Homo sapiens: one gene and its partner. The protein of the gene in region 1 purifies or fractionates together with the protein of each later gene. This does not show direct contact. Each region holds a gene or a part of one and is shown in the gene's direction. Other genes may lie near its edges. The genes, in order: AVL9 and MTMR12.

Region 1 (3,812 bases):
TCTTGCTCTGTCGCCCAGGCTGGAGTGCAGTGGCGTAATCTCAGCTCACTGTAACCTCCACCTCCCGGGTTCAAGCAATTCTCCTGCCTCAGCCTCCTGAGTAGCTGGGATTACAGGTGTGTGCCACCATGCCTGGCTAATTTTTGTACTTTTAGTAGAGACGGGGTTTCAGCATGTTGGTCAGGCTGGTCTCGATCTCCTGACCTCATTATCTGCCCGCCTTGGCCTCCCAAAGTGCTGGGATTACAGGTGTGAGCCAGCCACCAAGCCCAGCAGCTGTTATTCTTCTTTTTATGAGACAGAGTCTCGCTCTCTAGCCAGGCTGGAGTGCAGTGGTGTGATCTTGGCTCACTGCAACTCTGCCTCCTGGGTTCAAGTGATTCTCCTGCCTCAGCCTCCTGAGTAGCTGGGACCACAGGCGTGTGCCACCATGCCCGGCTAAGTTTTTGTATTTTAGTAGAGACGGGGTTTCACCATGTTGGCCAGGATGGTCTCGATCTCCTGACCTCGTGATCCACCCACCCCGGCCTCCCAAAGTGCTGGGATTACAGGCATGAGCCACTGCGCCCGGCCAGCTGTTATTCTTATATAAGGAATTTTTCCCTCTTTTTTATTTGTTATCATTATGGACGGCTTCATGGGTCTTCTAATTTGATTTTGATTGACTCCATTCCAGGTTCTTTTTTATATTTCTCCAGTGAATAAATTGGTGGGTGCACTGATGACTGTGTTATCCCTTTTTCCAGGTAAGAAAACAGCAGTATCTACTCTTTCTTTTGTTTAACTTGTACTGGAACCTAAACTTTTAGAAATAAAGTTTCAAAGATAAATTCGTTAGGGTTATCCTTTCTATTTTAATATGACGTCTTCCTTTTGGAAATAGGTTTCTCTCTTTTGTCTGGGCTTCTTTCTGTTCTTTTTGTTTTTAATTAAAATGTGTACAAGCATAGCTTATTAAATTTTATAGGGGAGTCTACTAATATATAGCTCTCAGGTTCTTCCATATTATTATAAGCCAAGCTGTTCTTTGATATTGCATATTTTAGGCATGATTGAACATGGTCTCAGTGACTGTTCTCAGTATAGACCCCGGAAAAGTATGTCTGAAGATGGTGGGCTTCAGGAAAGTAACCCATGTGCAGATGATTTTGTTTCTGCATCCACTGCTGATGTTTCACATACCAACTTGGGAACTATCAGGAAAGTCATGGCAGGAAACCATGGAGAAGATGCTGCCATGAAGACTGAGGAGCCTTTGTTCCAAGTGGAAGACAGCAGCAAAGGGCAGGAACCCAATGATACCAATCAATATTTGAAACCTCCATCTCGCCCATCTCCAGATTCTTCAGAAAGTGACTGGGAAACTTTGGATCCTAGTGTCTTAGAGGACCCCAACTTGAAAGAAAGGGAACAGCTGGGATCAGACCAGACAAATTTGTTTCCAAAGGACTCTGTCCCCTCAGAGAGTCTTCCAATTACTGTACAACCTCAAGCTAATACGGGACAGGTAGTCCTGATACCAGGGCTCATTTCGGGTTTGGAAGAGGATCAGTATGGCATGCCCCTGGCCATCTTCACAAAGGTAAAGTGTAATATTTTTTATCGAATTCCTTAAAGAATTTGAAAAATCCTTTCGGAGTTTAACTTTTGAACTTTTGGTATTCAACACATTTTCAGGTGGAAAAATTTCCTTGAAAACTGTAAAGTACAACCAAATACATAGTACTGTGGCATCCGTGACCATAGTATAAGTCTATGGGGAAGTATATAGGGGATTTTGATTGGTAAATGTTTTGAAACTTAGTAGATATGAGTCATATGCACAATCACTCTCTTGGGTCTATTTTTAATTATTCAGGTTTCTCCTTAAAAACAGAATTAAGGAAGTCCAGACAGCCTTGATTGCACTCAATAAATACAGGCACACCTCAGAGATACTATGGTTCAGTTACAGAACACTGTGATAAAGCGAGTCTCAGGAATTTTTTTGTTTCCAAGTGCATATAAAAGTTATGTTTACACTATACTGTAGTCTATTAAGTGCGCTGTAGCATTATGTCTTTTTTTTAATGTACATATCTTAATTTAAAAATACTTTAGGCCGGGCACAGTAGCTCATGCCTATAATCCCAAAACTTTGGGAGGCTGAGGCAGGAGGATCACTTGAGGCCAGGAGTTTGATTAGCCAGATGTGGTAACTCGCGCCTGTGGTCCCAGCTGCTTGGGAGGCTGAGATTAGGAGGCTTGGTTGAGCCCTGGAGGTTGAGGCTAAAGTGAGCTGTGATCACACCACTGTACTCCAGACTGGGTGACAGAGGGAGACTCTATTATTTTTTAAATAATAAATGTTTATTATTTAAAATTTAATAATTATTTTAAAAAAACAACAAAGTGAATAAAACTTAAATAATAATGTTAAAAGCACAATAAAGTGAAGTACAATTAATTATTAAATAATTTTTAATTTATTTAAATATAAATGAATAAAAATCCTTTGTTGTCATTTCAACAACATTCACCACATCTTCTTCACTAGGAGCAGACTCCATCACAAGAAACCACTCTCCTTATTCATCCCTAAGAAGCAGCTCCTCATCCGTTCAAGTTTTTATCAGTAGTTTGCAGCAATTCAGTCACATTTTCAGATTCCACTTCTAATTCTAATTTTCTTGCTGTTTCCACCAAATCTCCCCCAAGGTCTTGAACCCCCCAAAGTTATTCATGACAGGGGTATCAACTTCCTCCAAACTCCTGTTAATATTGATATTTTGACCTCCTCCTGTGAATCACAGATGTTCTTAATGGCATCTAGAGTAATGAATCTTTTCCAGAAGACTTTCAATTTACTTTGCCCAGATCCATCAAAGGAATCACTATCCATGGCAGCTATAGCCTTATGAAATGTGTTTCTTAAATAATAAGATTTGAAAGTCAAAATGACTCCTTGATCCATGGGCTCCAAAATGAACGTTGTGTTCCTAAGCATGAAAAACATTAATCTCCTTGTACATCTTCATTAGAGCCCTTAGATGACCAGGTGCATTGTCAATGAGCAGTAATATTGTGAAAGGAATCTTTTTTTATTTTCTTCTGAGTAGTAGGTCTCAACAGTGGCCTTAAATATACAGTAAACCATGCTGTAAAGAGATGTGCTGTCATCCAGGCTTTGTTTTTCCATTCTAGAGCACAGGCAGCAGATTTAGCATAACTCTGAAGGGCCCTAGGATTTGGGGAATGGTAAATCATCACTGGCTTCAACTTAAAGTCACCAGCTGCATTAGCCCCCAGTAAGAGTCAGCTTGTCCTTTGAAGCTTTAAAGCCAGGCATTGACTTCTTCCCTACCTACAAAAGTCCTAGATGGCATCTTCTTCCAATAGAAAGCTGTTTTGTCTTTATTGAAAATCTGTTGTATTCAAAATCTGTAATCACCTTCATCAATGACCTTAGCTAGATCTTCTGAATAACTTGCTACAGCTTCTTCATCAGCACTTGCTGCTTCACCTTGCACTTTTATGTTATAGAGACGGCTTCTTAAACATTGTGAGCTAACTCTGCTGGCTTCATACTTCTGCATCTTCTCAGCTCTCTCAGCTTTCATATAATCGAAGAGAGTTAAGGCCTTGCTCTAGATTAGGCTTTGGCTTAAGGGAATGTTCTGTTTGGTTTGATCTTCTATCCAGACCACTCAAACTTTCTGCATATCAGCAATAAGGCTGTTGTTTCACTTTCTTACCATTTGTGTGTTCACTGGTTTAAAAAACAAAACAAAACAAAAACAAAAACACTTTTAGTAGCACTTTTAATTTCCTTC
Region 2 (4,608 bases), on another chromosome or scaffold:
ATTTCTTAAGAGCTGGATTCTATCTTATTTATCTGCAACTAACAACGCTTGGCACCAAATGTAGAACTGAAATGAATTTTCTTTGCAATCTTGACTAAAAAATGAGGGTTTTATCAATAACTTCGTAGAGTAAATAGAAGTCTCTTAAGGGCTCTTGATATTCTTCCTGTTGGAAACACAAAGAAGGGAAAGGTTTGGAAAAATGAAGTTGACAAAGTCTTTTATTATCAAACGCTCAAACTTATTCCTCACTGCCTTGTTAACACTTGATTTGACACTTTTTTTTTTCTGTTTGAGACACAGTCTTGCTCTGCCACCCAGGCTGGAGTGCAGTGGCGCGATCCTGGCTCACTGCAACCTTGGTTCAAGCGATTCTCGTGCCTCAGCCTCCCGAGTAGCTGGGATTACAGGCGCCCGCCACCACACCAGGCTAATTTTTGTATTTTTAGTAGAGATAGGGTTTCTCCATGTTGGCCAGGCTGGTCTCAAACTCCTGACTTCAGATGATCCACCCGCCTCGGCCTCCCAAAGTGCTGGGATTAGAGGCGTGAGTCATCGTTTGTCTCATTTTTGTTTACATTTAAAATAATAAACCTTGAGGTCGGGCGCGGTGGCTCACGCCTGTAATCCCAGCACTTCGGGAGGCCGAAGCGGGTGGATCATCTGAAGTCAGGAGTTTGAGACCAGCCTGGCCAACATGGTGAAACCCCCGTCTCCATTAAAAATACAAAAATTAGCGGCATGGCGCGGTGGCTCATGCCTCTAATCCCAACACTTTGGGAGGCTGAGGCGGGCGGATCACGAGGTTAGGGGTTTGAGACTAGCCTGGCCAACATGGTGAAACCCCGTCTCTACTAAAAATACAAAAATTAGCCGGGTGTGATGGCAGGCGCCTATAATCCCAGCTACTCGGGAGGCTGAGGCAGGAGAATCGCTTGAACCTGGGAGGCAGAGGTTGCAGTGAGCCTATACTACGCCATTGCACTCAAGCCTGGGCGACAGAACGACACACACACACACACACACACACACACACAAAATTAGCTGGATATAGTGGCGGGCGCCTGTAATCCCAGCTACTCAGGAGGCTGAGGCAAGAGAATCGCTTGAACCTGGGAGACGGAGGTTGCAATGAGCAGAGATCGCGCCATTGCACTCCAGCCTGGGCGACAAGAGCAAAACTCCGTCTCAAAAGTAAATAATAATAAAATAAAAAACCTTGAACGTCATCGCTGTAAGTTGGGAACTCCTATAGCAAGATTCCATACATCCCATTTTTGGACGTTTTATTCCAAAGACACAAGCAAACGGAAGAAAACGACTGCCGTGAACCCCTGCTAACGACAACTTGGTGACTGCAGGATCATTGGACGACGGTTTTATCCTCGCCATCCAATCGTTGGAAAGTCCGGAGAGAACGCTCTCTGGATTGGTTGGAGGAAACATCTCTCCAAGTGCACTCAAGAATGGGTTGGGAGCGGGGTTCGGCCGGCAGCGCCTCGGGCCAATCAGAGAAAGCATGAGGGCGGGCTCTGCCGCAGGAAGGTGGTGAATCTCGGCGGGTCAAACTCTCCTGACGTGATGGGGGGGCGTGGCCTCCAGTTGCGGTCTCCCGGCTCTCTGGGCCCGCGCACGGGATGGGCGGGGCCCACGGGCCTGGGCGGGGCGAGCGGTGTCAGCGGCGGAGCCGGATGCGGGCGGCATCGCGGCGGTCGCGGCCTTGGGGATGGGCGGAGCCCCAGCCGCTAGTGCTGGTGGCCGCCGCTGCTGCCCCAGCTGGAGCCCGAGCCGCCGCCTCTGCGTCCGCGCGTCGCTGCTTCCCAGGGCGGCGGTATGCTGGGGAAAGGAGTAGTCGGCGGTGGCGGCGGCACCAAGGCCCCCAAGCCCTCCTTCGTGTCGTACGTACGCCCTGAGGTGAGGGGGCGCCGCGCAGGCGGGGCGTCGGGCAGGGGCGGCCGGGGCGAGGGGCGCCGGGAGCCCCTTCCTTGCAGCGGGGAGCGCCGCGGAGCGCTTCCTGCCCTTGTGCCGGGCGACGGGGCAGCCAGGCGGGCTGAGGCCGCAGGAGCGCGCTGGGGCCTCCGCGCGGGCCGGAATGGGGACCCCGGCGCAGGCAGGCAGGTGCCTGAGCGCAGGGCCCGAGCGCTGGAGGCTGGTGGAGGGGCCCGAGCCGAGAAGGGATTGCGGCCCGGAACGCCCCTGGGGATTCTGGAGAGGACCTGGGGTTGTGGGCACTGCTGGGAGGGGTAGGGCCGTGGGTCGGAGCCCCCAACGGGGCCTGCTCGGAGCCCGCGTGGGTCCGTCCTGCCTCTGGACTTTCTCAGTGAGCCCAGAAGCCCGCCGGCCTCCGCTGCCTGCGTCTGAGTGCCTCGGGTGCGGCTGGCGGGATGCCCTGCACCTACGTCCGCCTCCCGTCAGCGCTGCGGGGAGAAAAGGGGGTCGGCCTGGCCTCAGCCAGTCTCTGCTTGTCTCTCCCTTGGGAATTCTCCGCTGTCGCTTCTTTCTCCTCATCCCCTCACCATCATCCTTTCCACCCACTTCTTACTCTTCTGAATCTTCAGGTCAAGAAATTTGTTCATTCATTCAGAAAATACTTCTCGAGCTCCTACTGTGTGTCAGGCACTAAGTGCTTGTGATAGACATCAGTGAACAGGACAGAGATCTCTGCATTCCTGGAGCTTATTTGAGGGGGAAAGGAGAAACGGGGTGAATTATAGATAATTAAGTAAATTATACGGTGTAGTAGGAGGTGATAAATATCATGGGAAAGAAAAGAAATCTTTTTCCTCCTCGCAAAGGTGGCATTTGAGCCGAGACTTGAAGATACGAGAGGTCTGAGAGAAGAGTCGTCCAGGTAGAGGGAACAGCCCCCGGGAAGGTCGTGAGGTGGGAGTGTGTCTGAAGGGTTGGCGGAGCGTCAAGGAAGCCAGCATGGCAGAGGCCCATGGACAAGGGGGACAGTCATAGGAGAGGAGGTTAGAGAGATCAGAACTTGTAGGCCTTGCTCAGGGCTTCTTGAGCAATAGTTCTTAATCCAAATGCCTAATGAGAAGCCTTCTTGTTTTGCATCTGTAAAGGTTTTTTTCTGCCCTTCTCTCCAGCAGAAGTGCAGAAGCACCGCCAAATTTGTTGCAGATGTCTTCCCACCTCTGTAATGCAGAAGCACGTGGGCTGTGGATGAGAGATCTGATCAGGGACTGCTTCCGTAAAGACCACCTGGGGCCTGAGGCATTTGCATATGTATCTTTAAATTCAAGATATGTGTGTTTTCTCCAGGGGAAAGTGCTCTTAAAATGGGTCTTATTTTTAGTCCTAGTTGTAAAATACAAACCATTTCCTCTGTTAGCACTTGATGTGGAGTCAGGGTCATCTTAAAGTTTCAGCGGGCTTCCCTTGTGGTATCACATTTAAGCAATGTGGTCAATTTCTCTTTGTGTCTTTTTAAAACATTTAAACATTTAAAAAATTTTTGTGGGTATAGTAGGTGTATATATTTAATGGGATACATGAAATATTTGGGCTGGGCATGGTGGCTGACACCTGTAATCCCAGCACTTTGGGCCGGCTGAGGTGGGTGGATCACCTGAGGTCAGAAGTTGGAGACCAGCCTGGCCAACATGGTGAAACCCTAAAATTAGCCAGGCATGGTGGTGCGCACCTGTAATCCCAGCTACTTGGGAGGCTGAGGCAGGAGAATCGCTTGAACCCAGGAGGCAGAGGTTGCAGTGAGCCGAGATCGCGCCACTGCACTACAGCTTGGGCGACAGAGCGAGACTCCATCTCAAAAAAAAAAAAAAGAAAGAAATCTTTGGATACAGGCATACAATGCATGAATGGGGTATCCATCACTGCAAGCATTTATCCTTCCTTTGTGTTACACACTATCCAATTATACTCTTTAAGTTATTATAAAATATACAATTATTGTTGACTGTAGTCACCCTGTTGTGCTATCACTTACTAGATCTTATTCTAACTGTGTTTTTGTACCCATTAAACATCCCCACTTCCCTTTCCCCTGCTACCCTTCCCAGCTTTTGGTAACCATCATTCTGTCTCCATGAGTTCAAATGTTTTAATTTTTAGCTCCCACAAATAAGTGAGGACGTGCAAAGTTTGTCTTTCTGCGCCTGGCGTAGTTCACTTAACATAATGACCTCCAGTTCTGTTCATTGTTACAAATGACAGGATCTTATTCTTTTTTATGGCTGAATAGTACTCGTGTGTATGTACCACATTTTCTTTATCTATTCATTTGTTGATGATGGACACTTTGGTTGCTTCCAAATCTTGGCTGTGGTGAATAGTGTTGTAATAAACATGGGAGTGCAGATTTCTCTTCCATGTACTGATTTCCTTTCTTCCTTTTTTAGAGACAGGATCTTGCTTTGTCGCTTAGGTTGAAGTACAGTGGCGTGATCACAGCTCACTGTAGCCTCCACCTCCTGTACTCAAGCCATTTTCCCAAGTAGCTGGGACTACAGGTGCATGCCAGAGCACCTGGCTAATTTTAAAATTTTTAGTAGAGGTGATGTCTTGCTGTCTTTGCCCAGGCTGCTCTCAAACTCCTGGGCTCAAGCAATCCTCCTGCCTCAGCCTCCCAAAGTGCTG

The links.
Region 2: the proteins of AVL9 (region 1) and MTMR12 fractionate together in Homo sapiens (co-fractionation; one large-scale study listed by BioGRID). This does not show direct contact.

What each region holds. Positions count from the first base shown.
Region 1 is NC_000007.14:32,557,883-32,561,694, forward strand, and holds part of AVL9 (late secretory pathway protein AVL9 homolog), read left to right. Parts: intron 1-676; coding exon 677-746; intron 747-1,046; coding exon 1,047-1,582; intron 1,583-3,812. UniProt on the Homo sapiens protein: Functions in cell migration.
Region 2 is NC_000005.10:32,310,064-32,314,671, reverse strand, and holds the start of MTMR12 (myotubularin-related protein 12), read left to right. Parts: upstream 1-1,732; 5' UTR 1,733-1,833; coding exon 1,834-1,914; intron 1,915-4,608. UniProt on the Homo sapiens protein: Acts as an adapter for the myotubularin-related phosphatases. Regulates phosphatase MTM1 protein stability and possibly its intracellular location. By stabilizing MTM1 protein levels, required for skeletal muscle maintenance but not for myogenesis.